2 separate regions of the Homo sapiens genome follow, and region 2 is linked to region 1. Evidence: fine-mapped expression QTL. Tissue or cell type: whole blood. Region 1 holds a variant in brackets; the other region holds the start of a gene. All regions are shown on one strand. Distances are from middle to middle. Region 1 overlaps FAM193A (family with sequence similarity 193 member A). Region 2 holds the start of TNIP2 (TNFAIP3 interacting protein 2).

Region 1 (15,911 bases):
CTCCCAGCGTGCTGGGATTACAGGCATGAGCCACCACACCCGGCCAAGGTGACTGACGGTACTTAAATGCTGATGTGAAGTCAATAAATCTTATGTCACACGATAAAGGAGAAAGGAAATGAAGAGATTTTCTTAGTACTAGCGTATACATGCACAAACGTTTTTTATCAAAAGGAGGAAATACTCACAGCAATTACAGTCCTGGTTCCTGCAGCTGGTCATGTGGTCATAGCCGTTATTGATGCCTACCTTCTTCTACTACCCATTCTGTATTCCCTTTGCCTTCAGCAAGCACCTCAGCAGATGGTGGTTTTTTTCCTGGTGGAGTGACCCGAACCTTCATTCCTGATTTGTAGTCCTGCCTGGATTGGGCTGTTGTAGTTTCCCATTGACCTTAATCACAGGGCATTAGATAATACTAAGAGATGTCCTAATGGATCTCCTGTATTCCATGCATACTCTTCCTTACCTCTGTTGTGGAGTAAGAGACTAATTCCATCTTTTTTTTTTTTTTGAGATGGAGTGTCGCTCTGTCGCCCAGGCTGGAGTGCAGTGGTGCAATCTCGGCTCTCTGCAGGCTCCGCCTCACGGGTTCACACCATTCTCCTGCCTCAGCCTCCCGAGTAGCTGGGACTACAGGCACTTGCCACCATGCCCAGCTAATGTTTTGTATTTTGTGTAGTAGAGACGGGGTTTCACCGTGTTAGCCAGGATGGTCTCAATCTCCTGACCTCATGATCCGCCCGCCTTGGCCTCCCAAAATGCTGGGATTACAGGCGTGAGCCACCACACCCGGCCGAGACTGATTCCATCTTGATAGTCCAGATCAATCACTCCAGCCAACACCATAACTCCTCCTTAGCCTGTTGACTTAAAGGTAGGAGGAGCCCAGAGTGTCCAGGTGGCAATCTTAACTTCTAGCTTAATGGAATAGTTGTGTCTCCTGGTGGCAGCGTTCCTCCCTCTGGAACTAAGACCTCTAGGCCAGCAGAACATAATGTCATGGGAACAGGGAGCAAACATTTTGCTAGTGGATCACTAGGGGTGATGGCGAGTGGTGCCACTTCCACTTGAGTGCCTTGATTCCTGGACCCGTGCATCCTGGTTAAGGGAGAAACAATATCATATCTTGGATGCTGATTCAGAGCATACATGGCCTTCTGGAGAACTTGGTCCCAGCCCTGCAAAGTATTGTCACCTAGTTGGTGTTGTAATTGTGACTTCAGAAGGCCATTCCACCGTTCTATCAATCCAGCTGCTTCAGGATGATGGGGAACGTGGTAAGATCAGTGAATTCCATGAGCATGAGCCCACTGCCACACTTCTTTAGCTGTAAAGTGAGTGCCTTGCTCAGAGGCAATGCTGTGTGGAACACCCTGATGGTGGATGAGGCATTCCTTGAGTCCATGGATGGTAGTCTTGGCAGAAGCACTGCGTGCAAGATAGGCAAACCCACATCAGGAGTAAGTGTCTATTCCGGTGAGGACAAACCTCTGCCCTTTCCATGATGGAAGAGGTCCAATATAATCAACCTGCCACCAGGTAGCTGGCTGATCACCCTGAAGAATGGTGCCATATTGAGGCTCAGTGTTAGTCTCTGCTGCTGCCAAATTGGGCACTCAGCAGTGGCTGTAGACAAGTCAGCCTTGGCTAGTGGAGGTCCATGTTGCTGAATCTCCATGTGTAATCTCCATCCCTGCCACCATGGCCACTCTGTTCATGGGCCCATTGGGCGATGGCAGGTGGCTGGGGAAAGAGGCTGAGTGGTGTCCACAGAACAGGTCATCCTACCCACTTGATTATTAAAATTCTCCTCTGTTGAGGTCATCCGCTGGTGAGCACTCACAGGGGATACAAATATCTTCAGTTTTTGACCACTTGGAGAGGTCCATCCACATACCTCTTCCTCAAATTTGTCACCAATTTTCCAATAATGCTTCTTTCAAGCCCCTGACCATTGTCTTCCAAGTCCCATCCAGGCAAACCATTGTCTACAGCCCATGAATCAGTACATAATCACACACCTGGCCATTTCTCCTCCCATGCAAAGTGCACAACCAGGTGCACCGCTCCAACTTCTGCCCACTGGGAAGATTTCCCTTCACTGCTGTCCTTCAGGCATGTCCTAAAAAGAGGCTGTATTGCTGCAGCTGTCCACTTTTGGGTGGTGCCTTCATATCGTGCAGAAGCATCTGTGAGCCAGGCCCTAGTCTTCTCTTCCTCTGTCCACTGATCATAGGGAACTCCTCATGAGGCCATTGGTGCAGGCTGGGGGAGAGGAGGCAGGGTGGCAGGAGTGGAGACCATGGGCATTTGAGCTACTTCTTCATGTAACTTGCTTGTGCCTTCAGGACCTGCTTGAGCTCAATCACATATGTGCCACTTCTCTTTGATGATGGAATGCTGCTGTGCACGACCTACTTTATGGTGATGGGTCAGAAAGCACCCAGTTTATGATGGGCAGTTCAGGTCATATGGTGACTTGATGACCCATAGTCAAACATTCAGTTTCCACCAAAGCCCAGTAACAGGCCAAGAGCTGTCTCTCAAAAGGAGAGTAGTTAGCTGCAGAAGATGGCAGGGCCATCTTCTCCAGATCCTACAGGCCTCCGCTGTGATTCACCTATGGGGTGAAAATCCTACAGGCCTCCACTGTGATTCACCTATGGGGGCCTGCCAAAGGCTCCAAACAGCATCCCTATCTGCTACTGACGCCTCAAGCACCATTGGATCGCTGGGTCATATGGCCCAAGTGGCAGAGCAGCTTGCACAGCAGCCTGGACCTGTTGCAGAGCCTTCTCCTGTTCTGGACCCCACTCAAAACTGGCAGCCTTTTAGGTCACTAGATAAATGGGCTGGAGTAACACATCTAAGTGAGGAATGTGTTGCCTCCAAAATCCAAATAGACCCACTAAGCATTGTGGATCTTCTTGGTTGTAGGAGGGACCAAATGAGGCGACTTATCCTTCACCTTGGAAGGAATATCTTGACAGGCCCCACACCACGGGAGCCCTAGAAAGTTTACTGAGATAGAAGTTCCCTGAAAAAAAAATTTTTTTTTTTTTTTGAGACAGAGTCTCACTCTGTTGCCCAGTCTGGAGTGCAGTGGCATGATCTCGGCTCACTGCAAGCTCCGCCCCCCGGGTTCACGCCATTCTCCTGCCTCAGCCTCCCGAGTAGCTGGGACTACAGGCGCCTGCCACCATGCAGGGCTTTTTTTTTTTTTTTTTTTTTTTTTTGGTATCTTTAGTAGAGACGGGGTTTCACCATGTTAGCCAGGATGGTCTCAATCTCCTGACCTCATGATCCACCTGCCTCAGCCTCCCAAAGTGCAGGGATTACAGGCTTGAGCCACCATGCCCAGCTGAAATTTTTTTTTTTTTTTGAGACAGAGTCTTGCTCTGTTGCCCAAGCTGGAGTGCAGTGGCAATCTCAGCTCACTGCAACCTCCGCCTCCGGGGCTCAAGTGATTATCCTGCCTCAGCCTCCGAAGTAGCTGGGACTACAGGTGCGCACCACAACACCCAACTAATTTTTGTATTTTTAGTAGACATGGGGTTTCACTATGTTGGCCAGGCTGGTCTTGAACTCCTGACCTCGTGATCCGCCTGCCTGGGCCTAACTGCTTTGGCTAGAACCTCTAGCACAATGTTGAATAGAAACTGCAAAACAGATATCTTTGCCTTGTTCCTGATCTTAGGGGGAAAGCATGCGGTCTTTCACAACATTAAGGATGATATTAACAGTGAATTTTTTGTAGATGTCATTCTTCAGGTTGAGGAAGTTCTCTTCTATTCACACTTGGTGAAATGTCTTTATTATGCAAAAGTGTTGGATTTTGTCAAATGCTTTTTTTGCATCTATTGAGATGATCATGCAATTAAAATTTCGATTAATATGATTACATTAAGTATGTGTTGGATATTGAACCACCCTTACATTCCTGGGATTCCACTTGATCACGGTGTATATTTCTTTTCTTATATTGCTGGATTTGGTTTTCTAGTATTTTGTTGAGGAATTTTGCATCAATATTCATGAGATAATAGTCTGTAGTTTTCTTGTGATGTCTTTGTCTAGTTTTGGTATCAAGGTAATACTGGCCTCACAGAATTAGTTGGGAAGTGTTCCTTCTTCTATTTCTGAAAGTTTGAAAAATTGGTTTTAATTCTTCTCTAACTGTATGGTAAAATGCAGCAGTGAAGACTTCTAGGCTTGAGCTTTTGTGGGTACTTTTCCCTGTTTTAAATTACTATTTCAACATCTTCACTCATTATAGGTCTATTCAGATTGTCTATTTCTTCTGGAGTCAGTTCTTGTAGCTTCTTCCTGTCTAGAAATTTGTCCAT[C/T]TCATCTGCTATGGTTTATATGTTCATATGTTAGAACTTAGTGCCCAAGGTGATAGTATTAAGAGGTGGGGCCTTCTGGGAAGTGTTCAAATCATGAGTGCTCCATCATCATGAAAGGGATTACAGCTTTTATAAAAGAGGTTGAAGGGATCACCTTAATTCCCCTTTTTGCCCTTCTACCATATGAAGATACAGCAACAAGGTGCCACTTTGGAAGCAGAGAGTGAGCCCTTACCAGACACTGAATCTGTTGGTGCACTTTGCTCTTGAACTTCACAGCTTCCAGAACTGTGAGAAATAAACTTCTATTATTTATAAATTACTCAGTCTGTGATATTTGGTCATAGCTGCATGAATGGACTAAGATATCATCTAAATTACCAAATTTGCTGGCATATAATTGTTCTAGTATTCCTTTAAAATCCTTTTTCTGTGTGGCCAGTTCTGATTCTAGTAATTTGAATCCTTCCCTGGTCAATCTTGCTACAGATGTCTATTTTGTTTACCTTTTTAAAACTTTTGGTTTTGTTGATTTTCTCCATTATTTTTGCATCCTCTATTTCATTAATTTCTGATCTAATTTTTATGATTTTATTCCTTCTGCTTACTTTAGGCCTAGTTTGCTCTTTTTCCAGTGTCTTAAGGTGACAAGTTAGTTTATTGATTTGAGTGAGATCTTTCTTGTTTCTTAATATAAACATTTTCAACTTCTGGGATACATGTTACTATTTTTCAATTTGGGAGGTTTTCGACTATTATTTCTTTGAATATTTTTTTTGCTCTTTGCTCTCCTTTTGATATTCCCATTATACATAGGCTGGTATGCTTAATGGTGTCCCACATTTTTCTGAGACTCTTTATTTTCATTATTTTTTTCTCTATGTTCTTTGGCTGGCATAATCTCCATCAGCCTATCTTCAAATCCACTTATTTTTCCTTCTGCTAATTTTAAAATTTAGGCTGGGTGCAGTGGCTCATGCCTGTAATCTCAGCACTTTGGGAGGCCAAGGTGGGCAGCTCACCTGAGGTCAGGAGTTTGAGACCAGCCTGACCAACACAGTGAAACACCGTCTCAACAAAAAATACAAAAATTAGCCAGGCATGGTGGTGTGTAACTATAGTCCCAGCTACTGCGGAGGCTGAGACAGGAGAATCACTTGAACCCAGGAGTTGGAGGTTGCAGTGAGCCAAAATGGTGCCACTGCACTCCAGCCTGGGTGACAGAGCAAGACTCCATCTGTCTCTCTCTGTGTGTGTGTATATATATGTGTGTGTGTATATATATGTGTGTGTATATATATACACACGTAACTTTTCAGATTCCATAATTTCCATTTGGTTCCTTTAAAATAATTTCTATATTCATTTGATGCAGCCTTATTATATCATTGTTTTCTTTCTACTACCCACTAGTATTCCAGCTATGATGTTGCTCCTCAGGGTGTGTAGCTTTGCGTATGCCCACAGTCACCCTGGGATGACAGTCATTTTGGTAGAGTTCTCTTCCTCTTTCCCTGACCACATTCATTAAACCACTAATTGCCAATTCTATTGTTTTCAACAATGCCCTGGGGCACCATGCTCTACAAACAAATCCAATCAAATTCTGACTCCTTTGAAGAGAGAGTTTCTGGGAACACTGTGTGATATTCCTTCTGACCCCTGGATGCCTTCTCCCAGCTCTTTTCTTCAGTTACCTCCTGCAAACTATCTGGCCTGTAGCTGAGCCTGCATCTTGTCTCTCTTCCCAGGGTTTCATGGCCTCCACTGTTTCTGAGTGCCTTCAGGCTTGAACCTCTTCATTCTTTGTTGCAAACAAAGTCAGTTTCTTTGGGAAGAGATTAGGAGCTATCTGTTTTACTGCCTGTTTCTCTACCCAGGCAAAATCTCTGAGCAGGGCTCAGAGCTGAGGGTGCAGAAAACAGTAAGCTTCTCAATACAACTGTTCACTGTTAAAGTTTCCTTTCTAACTATTGTTATTGTTTCATTTCATGACTATTACAGGTTGAGTATGCCTAACCCGAAAGGTTCCAAAATTCAAATCCTTTTGAGTGTTAAGATGATGCTCCAAGGAAATGCTCATTGGAGCATTTTGGATTTCAGATTTTTGGATTAGAAATGCTCAATTGGTAAGCATGATGTAAATACTCCAAATCCAAAAAAGTCTGAAACTGGACACACTTCTGGTACTGAGGATGCCAGATAAGGGATAAGGGATACTCACCCTGTGCTACTGTGTGAGTCAAAAATGTGAGGCTCCCCTATGGCGGCCCCACCCTCCCCCACAGGGAAGTGATGTCATCAGGAACCCCAGGGGCTCCCATCAAGTCAGGGACCCTGGAGCTGGATGTCCTATAAGCACCCTGGGATGCTGGAAGGATGAGTGGTTTCCAGGGAAATAGAGGAAGATCCTTCCTGGCAAGGGCATGGCCAGGACAATGGCTGGGAGCCTGAGGGCCAAAGCTAGCAGGTGCAGGTCAGGGGCCAGAGCGGGCAGAGCTGTGAAGCCGCAGGCAGGGTTGCCATGGAGGTGATGGGAGTGCCCAGAACTGGGCATGTGCGGTGGGCGTCTGAGGGTCTCTAGGTCCCAGCATGATGCTTAGTGTGTCGGGGCACCCAGAGTTCCCCATCACCACTCAGGGCTGTGCAGTTCCCCTCAGCAACAGGCATGGTTCAGCACAGTGTTAAAGGCTGTCCATGGGGAGAGCAGGGCAGGTACTGGGGGCCTGGGCAGGCAGCTTCCCCATAGGGCGAGGCCCGGGCCTGGGCCTTTCCCCAGCCACCACCGCAGCCAGAAGAGGCAGCGGCTGGAGTCCCGGGGGCCTGCACTGGGGTTTCAAGGACACTACTGTTGCCGTGGTCATGGCCTGACCTGCTTCACTCTCTGCCCTATCATCCCACGAACAAAGGAACGTTCTCTTCCTCACACCTGGAAAAAAAAACAAGTGAGGAAAGTTCGTCGTGCTGCACCTCCCCTGGTTGGTGACCCTTTTCCAGCTTTCGTGCAATCTCCAGAGTTCTAGGACCTGCTGTCCCCACCTCATTCTCCTGCAAACCGGTGCCTGGGTGGGGGTGCCCTGGGCCTTGTCTCCCCTGACCTGCCTCGAAGCCTCCTCACCCTCCTCTGCCTTCCTGGTTCCACAGCTCGGGCCCCCATCCCATCTACTCACCCCTGCAGGGCCCTCACACAGGCTCTGTCCATGAACAGCAGTCCCCAGTTCCAGACCTCTCACCTGGGTGGCCGGTGGACATCCCAGACTCACCATCCAGAACTGGTCTCCAGTCCCACCTCCAGGCACACAGCGCAGGTCTTCACCTCTTTCTCCTACCTGCATCCTGTCCACCAGGAAATCCTGTGGCCTCATCGTCCGAATACCTCCAGAAGCTGGCTCTCCCTACCCTCTCCCCAACCAGGCCCTGCCCTATTCACCTTCACTCAGAGTGAAGTCATACTCTGATAGGGCACACAGAGACAGGCTGAACATGAGGCTGGGAGAAGTGGGAGCTACTGAGTGTTCTAGGTAGTAAGAAGTAACCAGGATGCAGCTCCTTGGGAGCTTTCTGTCTCCTGCTGCCTGCTCTGCCTGGCACACAGAGGATGGTGGGGGCACCAGGATGGGTGAGCCGTTGCCTGGAGAGACCTGGGACCTGCTCCGGGGTGGTGCCCTGGCTCCCCATGGCGGACACATCACCTACACGCCCTCTCCCGCTATCCCCCCACTCCCCCAGCAGAAAGAAGCAGCCGAGGTCTCCTGCTGTACTAATGTATTCCATCTTTCAAAAAGAAAGACATGATTTTAATATTACTTAACAATATGTTAAAAAAGTAGCCAGGCAGGCCTCCGTGTTAATACAGTCGTACACTCTATAACAGACTTGATGGTGTGAGTACTGGGTGGGCTTGTTTTTAACTTTCTCGTTCTGCAAGGGATCTTACACAAGCTGGCTACAAGTCAGGGGGATCAAACACAAACAGCGCAACGTGTACACTCGGAGACAGTAGATTGTGGAGAACAAAGGAGGCCTGCCCCGCCCAGCCCGCCTAGGGTGAGACGCAGGGGCACAGGAGAGCTGAGTGACGGCCGATACCCCGGTGAGGACACATGACAGGACAGGGCGCAATGCAGAGGCAACGGAGCCACGTGGATGATGCAAACTCCTATCTGGCCACGGCCCAGGCCTCCGAGGCCGCGGTGGTGGGAGGACTTGGCGGGAACTACTGTTCCAATCCGACAGCACAGAGCTACAATCGAAGGAGTCTCACGCACAGACTACACGCACACGAGCTAACGGCGTGGGCCGAGCATCAACTTCTCGGTCTGGGGTTTCAGGCAGCACCAGCTCCGCACAGCCCTTGGCAAGCACCACGGCTCTGGGGCGCCAGCGAGGGGCGTGGCTCTTGGGGTGGTGCAGCCTGGCCTGCCTCTCGCGTGTCCCTCTCCAGGGAGTCCTCATTCAGTGGGCAGCAAAGGTGGCTTTTTTCAAGCTAAAATTGGACCAGTTGATAGACAGTCTTTGTCGGGTCTGTCTAGCAGAATCCAAGCAGAACCTGCAAAGACAAAAAGCCAAACAGTCACTGAAGGAAACAGCCCACAACCAAGCTGGTGCTTGGCAAAGCCCATCACACTCCTGTTCTTGCCAGAAACTCACTGCGGGGTCAGGGGTTTAGATTCTCGGTGAGGGGCACAGTGTCAAGGGTCCCCTCCAGGCCCTGCTACAGGCTGCACTTGAGAAGGGGAAAGGACTCGGGAGGAGGAATGGGTGGGCGGAAGGAGTCCTGAGAAAGAAAAGAAACGTTTAATCTGAGAGCTGTGAGCGCCCTTAAATTATCAGGCCCAGGCAGGGTGTGGTGGCTCATACCTGTAATCCCAGCACTTTGGGAGGCTGAGGAGGGCAAATCACTTCAACTTAGGAGTTCGAGACCAGCCTGGGCAACATGGTGAAATCCTTTTTTTTTTGAGACAGGGTCTCACTCTCTTGCCCAGGCTGGAGTTCAGTGGCAGTTTCGGCTCACTGCAACCTCCACCTCCAAGGTTCAAGCAATTCTCTGCCTCAGCCTCCCAAGTAGCTAGGACTACAGGCATGTACCACCACACCGGTTTTTTTTTTTTTTTTTTTTTTTTTTTTGAGAAGGAGTTTCGCTCTTGTCATCCAGGCTAGAGTGCAATGGCACAATCTCAGCTCACTGAAGCCTCCGCCTCCCACGTTGAAGTGATTCTCCTGCCTCAGCCTCCCAAGTAGCTGGGATTACAGGTGCCCACCACCACGTCCAGCTGATTTTTGTATTTTTAGTAGAAAGAGGGTTTCACCATGTTGACCAGGCTGATCTGTACTCCTGACCTAAAGTGATCCGCCTGCCTCGGCCTCCCAAAGTGCTGGGATTACAGGCGTGAGCCACTGTGCCTGGCCACACCTAGCTAATTTTTAATTTTTTTCAAATGGAGTCTCTGTCACCCAGGCTGGAGTGCAGTGGCACGATCTTGGCTCACTGCAACCTCTGCCTCCCAGGTTCAAGCGATTCTCCTGCCTCAGCTTCCCAAATAGTTAGGACTACAGGTGCATACCACAACACCCAGCTAATTTTTGTATTTTTTGTAGCTTCTTCCCTGGCCAAGAAGCTTTTTTTTTTTTCTTGACACGGAGTCTTGCTCTGTCGCCCAGGCTGGAGTGCAGTGGCGTGATCTCGGTTCACTGCAACCTTCGCCTCCCAGGTTCATGCCATTCTCCTGCCTCAGCCTCCCAAGTAGCTGGGACTACAGGCACCTATCACCACGCCCAGCTAATTTCTTCTATTTTTAGTAGAGATGGGGTTTCACCATGTTAGCCAGGATGCTCTCAATATCCTGACCTTGTGATCTGCCCTCCTCGGCCTCGCAAAATGCTGGGATTACAGTCGTGAGCCACCGCGCCCGGCCTCCAAGAAGCTTTTATAGAAAGCAGAGGCCTCGAAAAAATTGTATACACATATATCCTAAATATCAGCTTCTAATTAAGTCAACTTTCAACTCTAAAGCTGTTTAAAAGGATTCCTGTGTCAGGTCTTAGCCAGGCAAATAGTCAACATTCTTGTTTCTTGGTTTTTCCTTCCTGAAACTGACACCAAAGAGGAGATCTGAAGCTGGCCATGGTGGCTCATGCCTGTTTTCCTACTACTTTGGGAGGCTGAGGTTGGAGAATCACTTGAACCCAGGCGTTTGAGACCAGCCCGTGCAACACAGTGAGACTCCATCTTTACAAAAAGTAAAAAGTTAGCCAGGAGTGGCAGTACACATATGTGCCTATAGTCCCAGCTGCTCGGGGCTGAGGTGGGAGGATCCTTGAGCCTGGGAGGTCAAGGCTGCAGTGAGCTGTGATGGTGCCCCCGCACTCCAGCCTGGGTGACAAAGGTGAGACCCGTCTCAAAAATAATAAAGCCTTGCTGTGGTGGCTCATGCCTATAATCCCAGCACTTTGGGAGGCTGAGGTGCGTGGATCACTTGAGCTTACAAGTTCAAGGCCAGCCTGGGCAACATGGTAAAACCTCATCTCTACAAAAAAACACAAAAATTAGCCAGGTGTGGTGGCGCACACCTGTGGTCCTAGCTACTCGGGAGGCTGTGGTGGGAGCATGGCTTCAGCCTGGTGGGCAGAGGCTGAGCGAGCCTGTTGCCGGTGGCAGGTACCTGAGTTGCCGGTGGCGAATCCGTATGTGTCTGCAGCAGCCTCAATTATTGCCTCCTCAGACGAAAGAATCTGACCAAAGGCCATAAGGCAGAAGAAGAGACTGAGGCAAGTTTTAGAACAGGAGTGGAAGTTCATTACAAAGCTCTAGAGCAGAAACAAAAGGAAGGAAAGTGCACTTGGAAGAGGCCAAGTGGGCAACTCGAGAGGCAAGTGCCCCATCCGGCCTCTGATGTAGGGTTCTAGGTGTTGGCATACTTCAGGGCCTCGCGTCCCTTCTCCCAATTCCTCCCTTGGGGTGGGCTGCCTGCACACACACTGGCCTGCTAGCACTTGGGAGGGAGCATGCGTAGTGTGTTTACTGGAGCATGCGCATGCTCACCTGAGGCGATCTTCCCTTCCCGGTGTAAAGTACCTGGAAGGTCACACACCAGTTAAACTCCACCATTCTGTGCCTTAGTGCACATGCTTGAGCCCACTTGCCCAATTCCTGAGATCTTATCGGGAAGCTGCTGATCACCAGCTTCAGTTTCCCTGGTGCTGGCTATGACCAATTATTATTTTAGAGAGGCAGTGTGACAACTGCCTAACCATCACCTGATGGTCACCTGACATCCCTGGTGGATGGAGGAGGCCCTCCCCTGCCCTGCTCACACCTGACTAGCTACCCACTGTAACAAACTGAGAATGCGCCACTGCACTACGGCCTGGACGGACAGAACCAGACTTTGTGCTCCCACCAAAAAAAAAAAAAAAAAAAAAAAAAAGTTTTGGAGGTGGAACATATTTGCTTATTAGAGGTCTAGGGTAACCACTATTTAAAGCTGTTTGTCTTTGAATGTTTTAATAAACTGTTTACTTTCTGAGTATATGGTTTCATTTAGCTTAGGAGAAGGCTAAACAAAACAACAAAAAACCCCTATCATATTCTAAATATAAACCAGAAATTTATAATCATTCAAGGGCATACCTGCACAAACGACTCAAAGCCAACACACACAGACATGCATGAGACCAAAATTAAGAATCCCTTTATGGCTTTAACCAAGGTCTCTGAAGAGGGAACAAAATTTCAGCCCCAGGCCCCTCTCAAGAACAGCTTAAAGAAAGTCTTGCTAGCTGCGAATAGGGTGCAAGCCACATCTGTCAGGCCATATTTTCTAAGGTCTCAGCTTCTCAGCTGACAGTCTATGCACAAATGCCAGGTGGAAGATTTAAAGAGACAGGAAAATAGAAAAACGAAACTGCCCATGGGACTAGTGCCAAAAATGAGGGAAGGTAAACCTGTGGGGTTGGGCTGGGGAGGTAGTTCATGCTTGTAATCCTAGTACTTTGGAAGACTGAGGTGGAAAGATACTCAGAGGCCAGCCTGGGCAACATAAAGAGATGCCTTCTCTACCAAAAAAAAAAAAAAAAAAAAAAAAATTGGGCCGGGTGTGGCAGCTCACGCCTGTAATCCCAGCACTTTGGGAGGCCGAGGTAAGGTGGGCAGATCACCCGAGGTCGGGAGTTCGAGACCAGCCTGACCAACATGGAGAAACCCTGCCTCTACTAAAAATACAAAATTAGCCAGGCGTGGTGACGCATGCCTGTAATCCCAGCTACCCAGGATGCTGAGGCAGGAGCATCGCTTGAACCCGGCAGGCGGAGGTTGCGGTGAGCCAAGATCGTGCCTGGGCAACTAGAGCAAAACTCCATCTCAAAAAAAAAATAAATAAAATAATTTTTTTTTTTTTAATTAGCTAGGCATGGTGGCGCATCTGTAGTCCCAGCAATGAACTGTGATCAAGCCACTTCACTTCGGCCTGAACTGAGACTTCATTTTTAGAAAGTCTTTTGGGGTTTAAAGTCTGCTCACAGATTCCTCTGCCCCACTGGCACCATCTGTGGGCTGCGGAGTAGCTGTCTTCAGTAAAAAAGGATTTATGTCCTACCTTTAGGCAAACAAAGGAGAGGTAGAGAGAGCCCCTGCACTCTGTCTTCAGCTCAACAATACCCAGTATTTGAGAGAGCAATATTTTAGTTTCCTTTAGTAGAAAAGATGACAAATGGGTATCCCAAATGGTCAAGAGTCATAAATAATTTCAAGTAAATTCAAATTAATTCCTATTAGTGGTTATCCTAAGCTAAAGGTATCCATTGAGGAAAGAAATCTGTAGTGGCTCTAAGGAACTGTAACTTTGTTTCAAATCCAGTCTCAGCGGGAATGCTGCTAATTCCCTGGATGACAGAGTGAGAGACTGTGTCTCAAAAAATAATAAATAAATAAGTAAGTAAGATTTACATCCTTAAGTGACTGAGAGCACTCTCTAAAACAAACTTCCAAATCTCTTGAGGGCCAGGGAGAGAACTCACCTTCATGCACCAGTTTAAAACTAACAGCAATTGGTCACAATTTTTTTTTTTTTGAGACGGAGTCTTGCTGTTGCCAGGCTGGAGTGCAGTGACGCGATCTCGGCTCATTGCAACCTCCGCCTCCGGGGTTCAAGCGATTCTCCTGCCTCAGCCTCCAGAGTAGCTAGGACTACAGGCGAGCACCACCACGCCCAGCTAATTTTTGTACTTTTAGTAGAAACGGGGTTTCACCATGTTGGCCAGAATGGTCTCTATCTCTTGACCTCGTGATCCGCCCGCTTTGGCCTCCCAAAGTAGTGGGATTACAGGCAGGAGCCACTGCGCCCGGCTGGTCACAATTTTTTTTTTTTTTTTTTTTGGGACGGAGTTTTGCTCTTGTTGCCCAGGCTGGAGTGTAATGGCACGATCTGGGCTCACTACAACCTCCTCTTCCTGGGTTCAAGAGATTCTCCTGCCTCAGACTCCAGAGTAGCTGGGACTACAGATGTGCACCACCACACCCGGCTTTTTTTTTTTTTTTTTTTTTTTTTGGTATTTTTAGTAAAGGTGGGGTTTCACCATGTCGGCCAGGATGGTCTCAAACCCCTGACCCTCAAGTGATCCACCCGCCTCGGCTTCCCAAAGTATTGGGATTACAGGCATGAGCCACTGTACCTGGCCTTGGTCACAAATTTAAGGAGGAAAAAAGGTCTGAATTACAAACAGTAGGAAGCAGCAATTTTAAAAGCATGCTGTGTAATTTAGGCCAAAAAAAAAGAAGCCACAGGAGGAACGGAGCCAAACTGCCAGTACCGGGACCCGGATCCCATGCTGTGAAGCAAGGCCAGAGAAGGCAGTTTCCCTTTTTTTTCCCTGAAACCCAAATCTCTTGCCTCTTTAGAAAGGGAAGGGGGTTAGAAAGAACAACTCAAGTTTTTAAGAAAAAAAGAACAAATTAGGAGAGGAGGTGATTACAAAAGTTGTTTATCAGGGCCAGGCTTGGTGGCTCACGCCTCTAATCCCAACGTTTGGAAGGCCGAGGCAGATAGATCACTTGAATCCAGGAGTTTGAGACCACCCTGGACAACATAATGAGAACTGTCTCTACTAAACATTTTAAAAATTAGCTGAGGCTGGGCGTGGTGGCTCACGCCTGTAATCCCAGTACTTTGGGAGGCTGAGATGGGCGGATCACGAGGTCGGGAGATCGAGACCATCCTGGCTAACACGGTGAAACCCCGTCTCTACTAAAAATACAAAAAAAATTGCCAGGCGTGGTGGCGGGCGCCTGTAGTCGCAGCTACTCAGGAGCCTGAGGCAGGAGAATGGCGTGAACTTGGGAGGCGGAGCTTGCAGTGAGCCGAAATCGCGCCACTGCACTCCAGCCTGGGCGCCAGAGCGAGACTCCATCTCAAAAAATAATAATAATAAAATAAAAATAAAAATAAAAATTAGCTGAGATTGGTGGCCCACGCCTGTAGTCCCAGCTAGTCAGGAGGCTGAGGTGGGAGGATCAAGTGAGCCTGGGAGGTCAAGGGTCCAGTGAGCCAAGATCATACCACTGCACTCCGGCCTGGGTGACAGAGCAAGACTATTGCCTTAAAAAAAAAAAAAAAGTTGTCAAGAATTCTCATTGCTTTACAGAAATTATATTGATAGTGATTGGCTATAAACTGTTGAACTACAGGATATGAGTTATCCCTATGACAACATTAAGAGGTTAATTTACAGCTACTTTGGCCACACTCTATCTAGAGTCTATACAATACAGCAGGTGGATTACTCAGCTTGAGGTGGGGGAAGGGGTAGGATGTACCCGCTCTCACATTTCACTGCCTCTCTGGTGTGATTACTTTTTTTTTTTTTTTTTTTTTTTTTTGGAGACAGGGTCTTACTCTGTTGCCCAGGCTGGAGTGCAGTGGTACGATCACAGCTCACTGCAACCTCGACCTCCTGGGCTCAAGCGACCCTCCCCAACCTGAGCTTCCCAGGTAGCTGGAACTACTACAGTAGTGTGCCACCATGCCCAGCTGATTTTACTTTTTGTAGAGATGACGTCTTGCTGTGTTGCCCAGGCAAGCACCATATATATGTGTGTGTATATACATACATATATATATAGTTTTTAATTTAATTAAAAAATAGAGACAGGGCCAGGTGTGGTGGCTCACGCCTGTAATCCCAGCACTTTGGGAGGCGGAGGTAGGTGGATTACCTGAGCTCAGGAGTTAGAGGCCAGCCTGGCCAACATGGTGAAACTCTGTCTCTACTAAAAACACAAAAAAATTAGCTGGGCATGGTGGTGGGTGCCTGTAATAGAGGCTACTCAGGAAGCTGAGGCAGGAGAATCACTTGAATCTGGAAGGCGGAGGTTGCAGTGAGCCGAGATTGCACCAATTGCACTCCAGTCTGGGTGACAAGAGCAAAACTCCATCTCAAAAAGTTAAAAAATTCATAATAAAAAAACCTTCTCAGTTGACTGAATTCCTCTCTTCCGTAACCCTTGATAACGATATGCACTTTCTCAGCCCGCTTTTCTGTTTGTTGACATGATTTCTGCCAATAATG
Region 2 (15,911 bases), 25 kb before region 1:
TGGCAAAAGAGGGCCAAAAATAGATATGGAGATAATCCAGATAATCATTAAGTATATTTAAGAATAGTGTCAACTTTGACCATTGTAATTGGTATAAAAATATGACAGATTTCTGGATATTTATATCCAGATTATACAATATATACAGATTATATTTTATAGATACTAATGTTTGCCAACATTTCTAATATAGAGTTTGAAATGTTTCATCAAAACATTTAATACATGTAAAATATATACAAAGTTAAATACAGTAAAATCAAAATAATGTGGAAACTAGAATCTACTTGACATATCTCCCTAGCAAGATAGTGTTTTTTTCCAACTGTACTATATTATATGAAAGTCCTGTTGCTATGCATATTCTGTACATGCCATGGCTACGTCTACAAATATGAAACAGCTAGAATAAACGGAAAAATCTAAACACCAGAGATGTTTTTACGTGGTTGTATATGAAATTATCATGTTGACAAAACAGCCAGATAATAAAGTTTTCAAACTCAAGATTTTTGTCTTATATGTGTAACCTCTGTTCTATTTGTTACAAATTATAAGTCTATGTTACTTAAGTGTGTGAATGAATAAAGGAAACATCTAGTTTAAAAAAAAAAAAAAAAAGACCAGCCTGGCCAACATGGCAAAACCCCGTCACTGCTAAAAATACAAAAATTAGCCGGGCGTAGTGGCGTGCACTGTAATTCCAGCTACTCGGGAGGCTGAGGCAGGAGAATCGCTTGAACCCGGGAGACGGAGGTTGCAGTGAGCTGAGATTGCACCATTGCACTCCAGCCTGGGCAACAGAGCGAGACTCTGTCATTAACAAACCAACCAACTTCCCCCAGCGCTCAGGGGCCCACGCTGGGGAGCAAAGTGGGTCTCCTCTGAGACAAACGTGGAGACTGCTCGAGAGCGAGGGTGGAGAGGTGCTGGGGGCGCTGGTCGGGGCGCGGGTTGCGGGACGGGGAGGGGCTGGGCGGGGCGCTCGCGCTCGCCTTCTGCCTGAGGCCTGGTCTGGGGCCGCGGGTCCACACCGCCTCCTCGTGGACACTCGCCGCGAGGGCCCGCGCCGCCCGCGGAGGCTGGGCTTGAGCCCACGGGAAATGAATACGGATCCTATAAGATTCGAGCTTTCATCACTGGGTCACCAGACGGTTCTGGGCGCGTGTCCGGGGTTCATCCTGAATATGCGCTGATGGGGCCGCTGGGCACGGTGGCGGTGTGGCCGCAAGGCCCCGCGGGGCCGCGCCCACCCGGAGGGTCCCATACCAGCCCCTCCTCCGCGCCCAGGCCCTGGCTCTCCCCGCTGCACCCCCGCTGCCCGCAGCCCTGAGCGCGCCCCGCTTTCGCTGGCGGGACAGCAGCGTCCTGCCAGGGTCGCGGCGCCGCACAGCCCGAATACTTCCTCACGAAACTCCAGAGACCCCTTCTGTACCCGCTGTGTCCCCCGGCCTGCCAGTAGCTCATGGTTACCTCAGGGTCCCAGACGCTTAAATGGGTTCTGGAATTTTCTCTGCCTCCTCTTGCCTTCCGGGAGCAAATGCGATGGTGGCTGCCAGCTGCTCGCCTACGCTTTTCTGCTCCTAAGGGCTCGACAAGGCAAATGCATTGGCTCAGGTCAGGACAAAGAGCAGGATGATTTCCCAAGGTCCCGGGGCACTGGAGCTGCGGGGAAGGGCAGCGGCCCTGAGCCGGGACCCCTGTGTAGGGGAAGACCCCTGCCCCTCCTGGAGGCCGGCCGGCTCTTACGGGTTTTGGCCTAGCATCCCCATGTGTGTCCGGAATTGGTGGGTTCTTGATCTCACTGACTTCAGGAATGAAGCCGCGGACCCTCGCGGTGTTACAGTTCTTAAAGGCGGTGTGTCTGGAGTTTGTTCCTTCTGATGTTCGGACGTGTTCAGAGTTTCTTCCTTCTGGTGGGGTTCGTGGGCTCGGCGGACCCTGCACTCGGAGCAGCCAGCCGGCCCCACCGGCCACAGGCAGTGAGGGGCTTAGCACCTGGGCCAGCAGCTGCTGTGCTCAATTTCTCGCCGGGCCTTAGCTGCATTCCCGCGGGGCGGGGCTCGGAACCTGCAGCCCGCCATGCCTGAGCCTCCCCCGCTCCTCCGTGGGCTCCTGTGCAGCCCGAGCCTCCCTGACGAGCGCCGCCCCCGCTCCACGGCGCCTAGTCCCATCAACCACCCAAGGGCTGAGGAGTGCGGGTGCACGGTGCGGGACTGGCAGGCAGCTCCACATTCACTGGGTGAAGCCAGCTGGGCTCCTGAGTCTGGTGGGGACGTGGAGAACCTTTATGTCTAGCTAAGGGATTGTAAATTCACCAATCGGTACTCTGTATCTAGCTCAAGGTTCGTAAACACACCAATCAGCACCCTGTGTCTAGCTCAGGGTTTGTGAATGCACCAATCGACAATGTATCTAGCTAATCTGGCGGGGACGTGAAGAACCTTTGTGTCTAGCTCAGGGATTGTAAACACACCAATCAGCACCCTGTGAAAACAGACCACTCGGCTCTACCAATCAGCAGGATGTGGGTGGGGTCAGATAAGAGAATAAAAGAAGGCTGCCCGAGCCAGGAGCGGCAACCCGCTGGGGTACCCTTACCACATTGTGGAAGCTTTGTTCTTTTAGTCTTTGGGTCCACACCGTGTTTACGAGCTGTAACACTCATTTGTTGAAGGTCTGCAGCTTCACTCTTGAAGCCAGTGAGACCGCGAACCCACCGGGAGGAACGAACAACTCCAGACGCACCACCTTAAGAGTTGTGACACTCACCGCGAAGGTCCGCAGCTTCACTCCTGAGCCAGTGAGACCACGAACCCCACCAGAAGGAAAAAACTCCGAACACATCTGAACATCAGAAGGAACAAACTCCGGACACGCTGCCTTTAAGAGCTGTAACACTCATTGCCAGGGTCCACAGCTTCATTCTTGAAGTCAGTGAGACCAAGAACCCACCAATACCGGAAACACATGGGCTGGGCCAGGCAAGGGGGACGTTTGGGGCTCAGTCTGTCCTGGTCCCTTCTATGGCTACTCCAGTCCCTCCCCTGCTTGCTGCACTCTAGCCACCCCTGGACTCCTCCAAGGGTCTTGATCAGGCCCTGCACAGGTCCCTGGGGCTCTGCACTCGCCAAGCCCTCTGCCTAAGAGGTTCTTTGCCCAGATACTTACATTGTGTTCTCCTGGTCTTTATCCACGGGTCCCTGACTTTCCTGACCTCCCTGAAGGAAAGCCAGGAAGAGTGGAGAGGTCTGAGCTAGGAGCCTGTGGGAGTCAAAGAAGGTGCCCAGAGGAGGAGAGGAAGAGAAAGGGTGAGCCAGGTGGGGGGACTCTGCCCACCCCTCATACCCCGGCTGAGCCCTCCCATGCCTGCCTGCTCCCGTCAACCTCCCACCTCCCTGCTGAGTTGGAGCCGGGGGAGCCTGGAGGTGAGGATGTGCCAGGTAGGAGCCCCACAGGGGCCATGGGACACCAAGAGGTGATCCAGGAGGCATGCGTGGCAGCCCTGCCTCTGAAGTGTGGGGCCTAAGAGGGACCTGTTGGGCAGCTCAGGGCTTCTCCTTGGGGAGCTGACCCAGCCGTCTGTTCTGTGACCACCTTGACACCCACATCCAGTTCCTGCCGCAGTGCGCCTCTGTGAGCCCCACCCCCTGGCGGTGCTTGTGCAAACAATGGAAGGAATGAGTATTCCAGGCACTGAAGCAGCAGGCACAAAGTCCTGAGGCAGGAGAGAACTTGGTGTTTTTCATGGGAAGGAGTCAGTATTCCAGGCACTGAAGCAGCAGGTACAAAGTCCTGAGGCAGGAGAGAACTTGGTGTTTTTCATGGGAAGGAGTCAGTATTCCAGGCACTGAAGCAGCAGGTACAAAGTCCTGAGGCAGGAGAGAACTTGGTGTTTTTCATGGGCTCTTTCAGAATGACTGGTCTACAGTGAGCCGGAGAAAGGGGTGCAGATGGGTCTGAAAACAGCAGGGCCAGTGGACCACGCAGGCCTCAGCAGCTTCATCTGTGGGTGGGGCTCACGTTTACTCTACCCACCCATTCTGGGATTAGTAGCTACCCAGGGCTTTGCTGCTCTGGGGTGCTGGTGTCTCGCATTAGGCCTTCTCTTGCATGATCTCTGCTGATATCCACTGGCCATGCAGCCTCGAGCAGGTGGGGACAGACTTGGTCTACTCCAGGGCAGGTGCCCAAAGTCACACGGCAAAAGGGCGTGGCGGGAGGTGGTAAAAAGCTGGGAGCAACAGTCCATCTAGCACAAATACACATTTGCTGCAAAAAGCCCTGTTGTCAAGACAGTCCTCAGGTTTGACGATTCAGTAGAAGGACTCACAGTTATTCATTACAGCAAAAGGACACAGAAGAAAATCGGCAAAGGAAAAATAAGGCACATAGAGCGGGCCCGGCGGGGAGACCAGGTGCAAGTACCCACAGGATATCGCTCTCCCAACAGTACTGGGAGTGTTGCCAAACTGGGAAGCTCACCTGAGACTTTGTGTCCAGAGCTGTGGTTAGGGGTTGATCACATAGGCGGGGAGTGCCCATATGGCTGACCTGAGTTACTCGGTCTCCAGCTCCTTCAGAGCTCAAGCTCATGACCCAAGGCCTCAAGTTAGCTTAGACTAGCTGGTGTGGTCCAAGGCCCCCACATAAGCAAAGACACTCTTATCAGGTGGGATATTCCAAAAGGTCTAGGGCCAGTCCCTTTTTTGGAACATGCAGGGTTGAACACACTAGGCCTGCTGCACTAGCCCCATCCTGCACAAATCTAGATGAGTTTCAGAACACAGAAAGTGAATGCTGGCTGGGCGCGGTGGCTCACGCCTGTAATCCCAGCATTTTGGGAGGCCAAGGCAGGCAGATCACTTGAAGTCAGGAGTTTGATACCAGCCTGGCCAACATGGTGAAACCCCATCTCTACTAAAAATACAAAAATTAACCAGGCATGGTGGCACGTGCCTGTAATCCCAGCTACTCAGGAGGCTGAGGAAGGAGAATCACTTGAACCCAGGAGGCAGAGGTTGCAGCTGAGATCGCAGCATTGCACTCCAGCTTGAGTGACAGAGTGAAATGCTGTCTCGAAAGAAACAAAGAAAGAGAATGCGGAAAGAAAGAGGGAGGGAGGGAGGGAGGGAAGGAAAAGAAAGAAATTGCTCCCTGTATCAGCTCCTGCCCAACTCTAGGCCATACCCAGTTGTGAACTCACTCAGCCAACTCTCATGCCTGGCTCCTTCTCACCCTTTAGGTTGCAGAGCTGGACTGTTATCTTGTCTCTAATCACCCTCTTTAAAGTTAGGTTCCTCCTTTTTTTTTTTTTTTTTTTTTTTTTTGAGAGGGAGTCTCGCTGTGTCACCCAGGATGGAGTGCAATGGCGCTATCTTGGCTCACTGCAACCTCTGCCTCCCGGGTTCAAGCGATTCTCCTGCCTCAGCCTCCCGACTAGCTGGGGTTACAGGCACCCGCCACCATGCCTGGCTAATTTTTGTATTTTTAGTAGAGACAGGGTTTCACCATGTTGGCCAGAGTGGTCTCGAACTCCTGACCTCAGGAGTCCTGCCTGCCTTGGTCTCCCAAAGTGCTGGGATTACAGGTGTGAGCCACCGCACCCAGCCTGTTGTTTTCTTATACACATTTTCCCCTTCCTTTCCTTACACAAAATTTCCTTACGTTGCAATTATTCTTGTTTTGGAAAAGGATCTGTCTCCACTATTACAATGTCCACACATGAGTCCCCAGTGCCTGGCCCAGTACCTAAATTTGCATTGAAGGCAAGAGCATGCTGGGCACTTCCCATGTGACCTTACTGAATATTTACAACACCCTCTAAGACAAGTGTTCTTGGAGGTCTGGGATCCCTCATCCGCAATTCTGAAATCTAAAAAGCTCAGAAACCCAAAATAGTTTTCTTTCTTTCTTTTTTTTCTCAGAGACAGGGTCTCACTGTGTGGCCCAGGCTGGAGAGCAGTGGCACAATCACCATTTACTGCAGCCTCAAACCCCTGCCTCAAGCAATCCTATCTCAGCCTCCTGAGTATCTGGGACTACTGGCACACACCATCACACCCACCTAGTTTCTTTTAACTTTTTGTAGAGATGGGGTTTTGCTATGTTGCCCAGGCTGGGCTCCAACTTCTGGGCTCAAGAGATCCTCCTGCCTTGGCCTCCCTAAGTGCTGGGATTACAGGCATGAGCCACTGCACCTGGCCCCAAAATGTTTTTCTTAAAGGTGGTACAAAATCTGACTTCAACAGCTACAAGGCTTTTTCTGATCTTCATTCATCTCGCAGTCTGAATGGTCACCCTGTCTTTGCAGAAATTGTAATCTGTCTGGTTTTGTGGTGCTGTACCATGTCCCAGTGGGAGCACTAAGTCAGATTTTAGCTGTTCATTTTCCATTGCTGCAGAACAAACTATCCCAAATGTTAGTAGCTTAAAACAATAAGCATATATTATCTCATCCAGTTTCTGTGGTCAGGGACTCAGAGCAGTTTAGCTGGGCGGTCCTGGCCCGGGGTCTTCCATGGAGTCACAGTCAGTATGTCAGTGGGGGCTACTGTCTTCTGAAGGCTTGACTAGGGTCGGAGGATACAGTCCCAAAGTGGCTTCTTCACCACAGTGGGCAAGTGGGCGCCGGCTGCTGCCATGAAGCCTCAGTTCCTTGCCACATGGACCTCTTCACAGGGTTACTTGATGATAGGGTGGGTGGCTTCCCCCAGAGAGAATGCTCCGAAAGAGGGCAAGGCAGTAGCCGTGATGTCTTGTGGGAGCTAGCTGCAGAAGTCACACTCCATCATTTCTGCAGTACCCTCTTAGTTACCCAGGTCAGCCCTCTCCAGTGGATTGGAGGGGACTACACAGGAGCATGGATATTGGAAGGAGGGGATCCTCTTTGAAAGCTGGCTCCCCCAGTTATATGTACCTATTTGAAATCCAAAGATCCTCATTTCTAAAATACACATGGCGGCCTGGCGTGGTGGCTCACGCCTACAATCCCAGCACTTTGGGAGGCCGAGGCAGGCGGATCACTTGAGGCCGGGAGTTCGAGACCAGCCTGACCAATATGGTGAAACCCCGTCTCTACTAAAATACAAAAAATTAGCCAGGCGTGGTGGCGGGCGCCTGTAATCCCAGCTAATTGGGAGGCTGAGGTGGGAGAATCACTTGAACCTGGGAGGCGGAGGTTGCAATGAGCCAAAAATCACACCACTGCACTCCAGCCTGGGCGACAGATTGAGACTCCGTCTAAAATAAATCAATACGATACAGTACAGTACAATACAATACAATACACCACACCTGACCCCAAGGCTGTTGTTGGATGAGAGACTGTGGATTGTCACATGCACCTTTTACAGTTGAGGCAGAGGCTCAAGGTAGGTCACTGGAATGACGTGCCCCAGGCCACACATTAGCCTCTAACAGCTCTGGGTCCAGTTTTGTTTTTTCCACTCATGCCCCAGACAATCAATAGGCATTGTTTGTAACCATAGCCATGGGGACTGTAGGCTTGCTGTGCAGCAGCCACTGCACTGGACAAGCATTCCATGCACACTCCACCCTCTAGTCCCCACAACAGCCCAACCAGGTAGGGTGGGCACTCGCTCTGCCCTTCCTTCTGCTGAGAGGAAGCCCAGGCTCTGATGAGTAAGAAGGAGCCTTCCATAGCAAAGCCAGGCCTGTGTAGCCCAATGTCCGGGCCATAAGCACTTGGGTGGCTCTGGCTTTGCTTATAGGCTTGTCTGATTCTACAAGCTTGTGTTTTCCCAGGCTCAGCTCAGGCTTGGCTGTGGATCACATAAGGGAAGAAAGTCAAGAAGCTGCTCAGGGGCGGAGCCTGTGGGCAAGTGCACACACAGGGAAGACCCCTGCCCTATCCTGAGTAGGGAACCTTGGAAAGACCCCATGTGTGCTTGGGCATCATTGTGGGGAAGACTGGGCTGTGGAAAAACACTAGCGTTTGTCTGGGAATTTTGGGGAAGGAAAGGGATGGAAAAGCGAAAGGGTGGGAAGGGGCTGGTTTCCTGCTGCTTCTGCTATATAAGAACAGCATCTAGCAGGAAGGTTGTCCCGTGGGCCCATACTAGCCACCTTACAAAGCAGCGTCTGCAGTGGCTGACGCCTGTAATCCCAGCACTTTGGGAGGCTGAGGCCGGTGGATCTACCTGAGGTCAGGAGTTCAAGACCAGCCTGGCCAACATGGTGAAACACCATCTCTACTAATAATACCAAAAAATTAGCAGGGCATGGTGGCGGGCGCCTGTAATCCCAGCTACTCAGGAGGCTGAGGCAGGAGAATCGCTTGAAACTGGGAGGCGGAGGTTGTAGTGAGCCGAGATCGCGCCATTACACTCCAGCCTGGGCAACAGAGCGAAACTCCGTCTCAAAAAGAAGAAAAAAAAGGAAAGAAAAAAGAAAGCGGCGTGCGGGGCAGGGGGTTGGAGCTCTTTCTGGGCTCAGTGTCCCCAGGTGACGGAACACATGCCACGTGCTTGGTGCGCTGCGAGCTCAGCTCCTGGAGCTTCTGTTGCTGCTGTGGCCGCAAGGCCTGGACCCTCGCGGGGAGATTCAGACCCACACTTAGCTCCAGAGCTTGGGGGTTGTCGTTAAGCCCTTCCTTTCCATCAGAGGCTGATGAATCCCCAAACTCCTGGGCTGAGTTCGACTCTCCGACAACTCCTCAGAGGCGGATGTTTGGGGCCACTGGAATAAGCCCAGCACCAGCTGGGGTGTGGACAGCCTCGGGGGCCAGGCCAACTCTCCCGGACGGGTGCGGACGGCAGGGGCGGGGCCGGGCTGTAGGCGGTGGGAGGGGTGGGGCCGGGCGAGAAGGGGCTGGGCGGGCTGCCGTCGGGCGGGGCTGCGCGGGGAAGGGCGGGGCTGCGCGGGGGGCGGGGCTGCGTGGGGGAGGGCGGGGCCGGGCTGTTGTGGGTGGGCGGGGCGCACCGGGGAAAGTTCCGGGAAGGGCGGCAGCCGGCGGGGCCCGGGCGCGGAAGTTGCCGGCGGCCGCGCGGCCTCCCGGGCGGGCCTACAGCCATGTCCCGGGACCCGGGGTCGGGCGGCTGGGAGGAGGCCCCGCGCGCAGCTGCCGCGCTCTGCACCCTGTACCACGAGGCCGGACAGCGGCTGCGCCGCCTGCAGGACCAGCTCGCTGCCCGCGACGCCCTCATCGCTCGCCTCCGCGCCCGCCTGGCCGCGCTGGAGGGGGACGCCGCGCCGTCCCTAGTGGACGCGCTGCTGGAGCAGGTTGCGCGCTTCCGGGAGCAGCTGCGAAGGCAGGAGGGCGGCGCCGCCGAGGCCCAGATGCGCCAGGTACGAGGGCGGGTACCAGAGGAGCTGCGGGAGCGAGAGTGCGTGTGGCGGCCGCCGGGTCCTGGGTGGGTGAGCGAGCGGGCCCCGGGTCCTGAGGGGTTGAGGGGGTACTGGGTCCTGGGGTTGAGTTGGCCTCGGGTCCTGAGGGGTTGGGGGAGCACCAGGTCCTGGGAGTTGAGGGGGTGCCGGGTCCTGGGGGTGAGGGGGCCCCGGCTCCTGAGGGGTTGGGGGAGCATCAGGTCCTGGGGGTTGAGGGGGTGCCGGGTCCTGGGGTTGAGGGACACTAGGTCCTGGGGGTAAGGGGCCGTCGGGTCCTGGGGGTGATAGGGCAACAGCTTCTGGGGGGTGAGGGGACCCTGGGTCCTAGGGGAGAGAGGGGGACCAGGTCCTGAGTGGGATAAGGGGACACCACGGGCTGAGGTGTGCTGGGTCCTGGGGGGTTTGAGGCGTCACCAGGTGCTGGTGGAGGTGAGGGGGCTCTGGGTCCTGCGGGGTGAGGGTGCAAGGTTCTGAAGGGGATAAGCGAATGCTGGATCCTGGGGGGTTGGGAGGGCACTGGGTCCTGGGGGATGGTGAGGAGGCACTGGGTTCTGAGGAGGGGGGTTGGTGCAGTTCTTGGGTTCTGTGTGTGTGTGGTGTATGTTCAGGTGGGCTCTTAGGGGTATTTTGAGGTTCGTGTGTGGGAACACATTCCGAGGGGGGTGTGTGTATGCTGTGTGTATTCTGTGTGTATTGTGTAGTGTGTATGTTCCGGTTGGTTCTTAGGGGTGTTTTGAGGTGTGTGTGCGGGAGACACATTCTGAGGGGTGTGTATGGTGTGTGTGTGTACGCACACATGTGTGTCTTGGGTCCAAGGTCGTGTACTCATATTGTGTTCTAGAGTCCCTTCCAGCCCTCACCCATGCATGTGTCTTTCACTAGTGGCGCTTCAACTCTATGCTGGGAGCAATGGCAAATGCAGCCCGTGTCTGATAAAGGACACAAATCCTAGGCTGGGTGCAGTGGCTCACGCCTGTAATCCCAGTACTTTCGGAGGCAAGGCGGGCAGATTGCCTGAGCCCAGGAGTTCGAGACAAGGCTGAGCAACATGGTGAAACCCTGTCTACAAAAAGTGCAAAAAATTAGCCGGGCATGGTGGCACGTGCCCGTGCTCCCAGCCACTAGGGAGACTTAGGTGGGAGGATCACTTGAGCCTGGGAGGCAGAGGTTGCAGTGAGCCAAGATCGCACCACTGCACTCCAACCTGGGTGACAAAGTGAGACCTTGTCTGAAAAAATTAAATTAAAAATGGACACAAGGGTCCGGACGCGGTGGCTCATGCCTGTAATCCCAGCACTTTGGGAGGCCAAGGCGGCGGATCACGAGGTCAGGAGATTGAGACCATCCTGGCTAACATGGTGAAAACCCATCTCTACTAAAAATACAAAAAATTAGCTGGGCGTGGTGGCGGGCGCCTGTAGTCCCAGCTACTTGGGAGGCGGAGGCAGGAGAATGGCATGAACCCGGGCGGCGGAGCTTGCAGTGAGCCGAGATTGTGCCACTGCACTCCAGCCTGGGCGACAGAGCGAGACTCCGTCTCAAAAACAAACAAAAAAAGACGCAAATCCTGACTTTCTTCTCTTTGTCCTTGTCTATGATGTTTATGTCTGTTTTTTGATGATAAACTATAACACCACAACAGCAGTATAAGTAACAGTTTTTTTGTGCAATAGTATTTGCAAGCATCTGAAACATTCGGGTGAGCTCTGGCATCTATTATTCCATTTGATTCATGGCTATTATCCTAGTTTGCCCAGGAAAGAAACTAAGCCTGCAAAGGCAGTAGTCTGCGAAAGATAGTTTTTGTCTCCAGGGTTGGCCCCACAGCCTGATTTTAGAGAGAAAAAGAAACATGCCCTTTTTAAAAAAGAAAAAAAATTATAAAACAATTTTGAATATCTGAAAAATAAAGAATAAAATAGCCGCTGTAGTCCCACAGTGCAGGGATGACTAGTGTTAATCTCTTGGCATGCCTTCTTCCTGTTTTTCCTCTGTGTATAAGGTGTGTGTACACTTGGCATGGTTGTTTTCATGCTGTGTATACAGTTGTACTTAATATTAGGTTGTCAGTATCTACATCATTTAAAATACTTTCAGCAGCCAGTGTCTCCCCTACTCCACTCTCTCCCTCTTTCTGGAAGGTACATCCTGACTCACTAGAGCAGAAGGGAAGTTTAGAGGTCACCTGGTCTGCACCAACAGGTTTTAGAGTTGTGGATGCCAGGAGCCACAGATGAGTACAGACCAAGGACCCGGAAGGACACTCCGAAGTCATCTCCAGAATGTTGGTGGGACAGGATGCAGGGACCTCACAACCAGAGCAGTATACTTGCAGTCGGTGGCCATTGGTGTTCCGCTCACATGTGTTCCCTGGTGTCCTGTGTATCTGGCCACTCACCAAGCAGCTTATTGCAGCTTCCTGGTAGCCTCAGATAGAATTAGTTCTGTGTTCCCAGTATTACTGGCCCTGGTCCTGTCTTCCCAACATGTAAGCATGTAGGTTTTGTTTTGGGATTTTTATTTTTTTATTTTTTTGAGACAGGGTCTCACTCTGTTACCCAGGCTGGAGTGCAGTGGCACAAACATGGCTCACTGTGGCCTCAACCTCCTGGGCTTACGTGATCCTCCTGCCTCAGCCTCCCATATAGCTGGGACCACAGGAGTGTGCCATCACACCTGGCTAATTTTATTTTTTTTTTGTAGAGACGGGATCTTGCTGTGTCGCCCAGGCTGGTCTAGAACTCCTTTCTTCAAGTGATCCTCCTGCCTTGGCCTCCCAAAGTGCTAGGATTACAGGCATGAGCCACCACGCCCAGCATGGGGGGATTTTTAATTATTTAAGGAACATTTTAATGATTTAGTTTTGTTTGTTTGTTTTTTTATTTTTATTTTTATTTTTTTAGAGACAGGGTCTTGGTCTGTGACACTGCCACCTAGGCTGGAATGCCTTGGGGCCATCATAGCTCACTGTAACCTTGAACTCCTGGGCTCAACCAGCCCTCCCATCACAGCCTCCCGAGTGTCTAGGACTATAGGCGAAGAGCCTACCACAAGGACTATGAGCCACCACACCTGGCTAACTTCTTAAGTTTTTGTAGAGAAGGGGTCGCATGATGTTGCCCAAGCTGGTCTCAAACTCCTGGCCTCCAGGGATCCTCCTGTCTCGGCCTCTCAAAGTGCTGGTATTACAGGCGTGAGCCACTGTGCTGGCCTTATCTGGTATTTTATGCAATTACATATTTATTGCTCATCCCAACGTTCAATCTGAGGTCGGTCATGGAACCTGTGGAAGAATGGAGAGGTTTGTCACCTCCTGCAGGCCCTGGGTTCACTGAGGTGGCAGTGCAGAGTTAAAGACACAGCAGGAAGCAAGCCGTTGCTAGGTTGCTCTCATCTATGAGAGCCCGTTAGGAGCAGGAACCCTGGACCAGTAGGGACTGAGGGCTCCCAGAGAGAGTGCTGAGGCTCAGAATGTGGAGGAGCTGACCAGTGCGTCTGTGATCAAGCTGCGGTCAGTGTGTGATGGGGCAAGATCAGGCCAGAGAATTGTGGTCCTCAGTGCAGCCACAGCTGGACTTGAGACCTTACCTCATCTGTAACACAAGGCCTGAGTGGATAACTTTACAAAGCCCCTCCAGTTAATACTTTCTGGAATAATGGCACCAATTCATTGTGCAACCTGGTCCTGCCCAACCCCATCCTGTCACCATTCTCGGGACCAGCTTCATAGGCTTTGCCTGGTCCTGGCGTATCAGCCCCCTTTCCCTTCCGGCTTAGCTTAGCTTTGCTTTGCTTGTTTTCTTGGCTCTTTCTTTTCTTTTCTCTTCTCTTCTTTTCTTTCTTTCCTTCCTTGTTCCTTTTTTTTTTTTTTTAAACTGAGTCTTGCTCTGTCGCCAGGCTGGAGTGCAGTGGCGGGATCTTGGCTCAGTGCAACCTCCACCTCCCGGGTTCAAGCGATTCTCCTGCCTCAGCCTCCTGGGTAGCTGGGACTACAGGCGCCCACCAGCACGCCTGGCTAATTTTTTGTATCTTTAGTAGAGGCGGGGTTTCACCATGTTGGCCAGGCTGGTCTTGAACTCCTGACCTCGTGATCCACCCACCTCAGCCTCCCAAAGTGCTGGGATTGCAGGCATGAGCCACCGCCCCGGGCCACCTTCCTTGTTCCTTTCTTTCTTCCTTTCTCCTCCCCTCCCCTCCCCTCTTTTTGACAGGGTCACTCTGTTGCCCAGGCTGGAGTGCAGTAGCATGATCATAGCTCACTGCAGCCTTGACCTCCTGGGCTTAAGTGATCCTCCTGTCTCAGCCTCCCGAGTAGCTGGGACTACAAACGCCCACCACCATGCCTGGCTAATGTTTTTTGTATTTTTTGTAGAGACAAGGTCTCGCCATGTTGCCCAGGCTAGTCCCAACCCTTGGGCTCAAGTGATCCTCCCACCTCGGCCTCCCAAAGTGCTGGGATTACAGGCTTTGGGAGAATACACTTCTGTTGTTTAAGACACCAAGTTTGTGATACTTTGTTGCCGCAGCGCTAAAAGCCAAGAGGCCACTGTGCCTCTTAAGGCCAATCCACAAGACTATTAATAGAGCTGTTTACACTTTTGTGTTCTGAGCGTGGAGCTATGGAGTTGTGGGTCCCGGCGACAGGCTTTCCTGAGAGATGTCAGCCCAGTTGCTGACTAGTCTGTGTGTTGTGCCTGTGTGTGTAGACCCACAACTCCAGCTCGTACCTTGTTTTCTGACCACAGTGGTCGAGGTGCTGTTGTGTCCTAAGAACTGTTACTAACTGGACAAGGCACTCAGACAGATAAACCAGCACAAAGCTCTGCAACTTCAGAGCCAGTGACAAATGCCAGAAGCCCGGGGGCTGGAGGGGTCCTGGGGCCCTCATGCTGCCGAGGGGAGGATGAGTGGGGCAGCCCTTTGCAGGGCTGGCCTGCCCCCACGGGTTGAGCGTAGAGCCTGCGTCCTGATCTGTCTCTGTATGGCCCAGTCTTATTCCCATTTACTGGGCATCTGTGTGGGGCTGGGCTCAGTGTTGAGTACTAGGGTGTGGAGGCAAGAGAGAGCCACGCCCTCAGGATCTACGAGCTGTGGACATGCTGCCCTCCTGTTTGTGGAGCTGTTTGTTTCTCCTACTGTCAGCATTTGACCAACGCAGGAAGGAGGCTCCGAAATCAGATTTTACCTGGGCACGGTGACCCCTGCTGAGGCAGGAGGAGGATTGCTTGAGGCCAGGAGTTCAAGACCAGCCTAGGCAACATAGCCACACCCTGTCTTTATCAAAAAAAAAAAAAACCAGAAGTCAGGTTTTGCTCAAAGTCCTTTATCCCTGAAGAGGGTCTCACTGTCACCCAGGCTAGAGTGCAGTGGCACCGTCACAGCACACTGCAGCCTTGACCTCGAGCCCATGGTCCCAGCTATTTGGGAGGTTGAGACGGGAGGAACACTTGGACCCAGGAGTTCAAGGCTTCGGTGAGCTGTGATTATACCACTGTATTGCAGCCTCGGTGTCAGGGCGAGACCCTGTCTCTAAAATAATAAAATAATAATAATAATAATAATAATAATAATAATAATCAGGGTTCTCGCAGTAATAGGGCTTAGTATTTTGTTCCATTGTGATGAGAACATTCTAGGTTCCCGGTCTCTGTCCCTTCTTACCTCAAGTACTAGACACAGAGGCTGGACCCTTCTCCCGCCACTTCTGGGGGAAGCTTGGGCTCCTCCGTGACTTTTCTGAAACTGTTTCTTCACTTGTGGGATGGACTAGTTGAGCCTGCTTCACCTCCTTCATGTAATGTACTGTTTATTTTGGAGGATTCTTTGAAAACGGAAAAGTACAAATTTAAGGCCAGATATTAAAAAATTGTCAGGTCAGATGTGGTGGCTCGTGCCTATAATCCCAGCACTTTGGGAGGCTGAGGCAGGCGGATCACTCAAGTCCAGGACCAGACTGGGCAAAGTGGTGAAACCTTGTCTCTGCAAAAAATACAGAAATTAGCCAGGTACGGTGGCATGCACTTGTAATCCAACTACTTAGGGTGCTGAGGCAAGAGGATCACTTGAGTCTGGGAGGTGGAGGCTACAGTGAACCATGGTGGCACCACTGTACTCCAGCCTGGGTGACAGGGCGAGACCCTATCTCAAAATAAAATTGTCATTTTAAGAACCTTTTTAAATTCTTTAAGAAGTAATTGGGGTTGGGTGTGTTAATTTCCTAGAGCTGCTGTAACAAAGTAACACAAACTGGGGGGCTTCAAGCAACAGAAATTTAATCTTTCACAGTTCTAGAGGCCAGAAGCCAGAAACCAAGGCATCGGCTCTCTCTCAAGGTTCTAGGGAAGGACCCTTCCTCGCCTCTTCAGCTTCCTGTGGGGGCCACCAATCCTTGGTGTTCCTTGGCCTTTATCCACAAGACAAGACGTCACTCCTATCTTTGTTGTCACGTGGTCGTCTTCTCTCTGTGTGTCTGTCCAGACTTCTGTCTGCTTACAAGGACACCAGTCCCGTCCTAATCCATTTTGTCCCCACCTTAACTAATTACATCTGCAAAGACCCTATCT

What was found.
Region 2: TNIP2 starts here. The variant in region 1 is fine-mapped to the expression of TNIP2 in whole blood (TOPMed, PIP above 0.99).

What each region holds. Positions count from the first base shown.
Region 1 is chr4:2,724,762-2,740,672 of GRCh38, reverse strand. It overlaps FAM193A (family with sequence similarity 193 member A), which reads right to left. Exons shown (of 21, transcript NM_001366318.2): 21 at 8,100-8,898. The coding sequence ends at 8,805. Among named protein-coding and RNA genes, the nearest start is that of TNIP2, 24 kb to the left of the region's middle. The variant C/T (reference allele first, on the strand shown) is at 4,350.
Region 2 is chr4:2,749,412-2,765,322 of GRCh38, reverse strand. TNIP2 (TNFAIP3 interacting protein 2) reads left to right here and starts at 8,987. Exons shown (of 6, transcript NM_024309.4): 1 at 8,987-9,309. The coding sequence starts at 9,034. It overlaps LOC102723763 (a long non-coding RNA gene), which reads right to left and starts at 3,591. Exons shown (of 3, transcript XR_001741552.2): 1 at 3,172-3,591; 2 at 1,474-1,583. RefSeq lists silencers at 803-1,352, 8,525-8,664, 8,845-9,364, 9,385-9,444 and enhancers at 1,543-2,111, 2,915-3,739.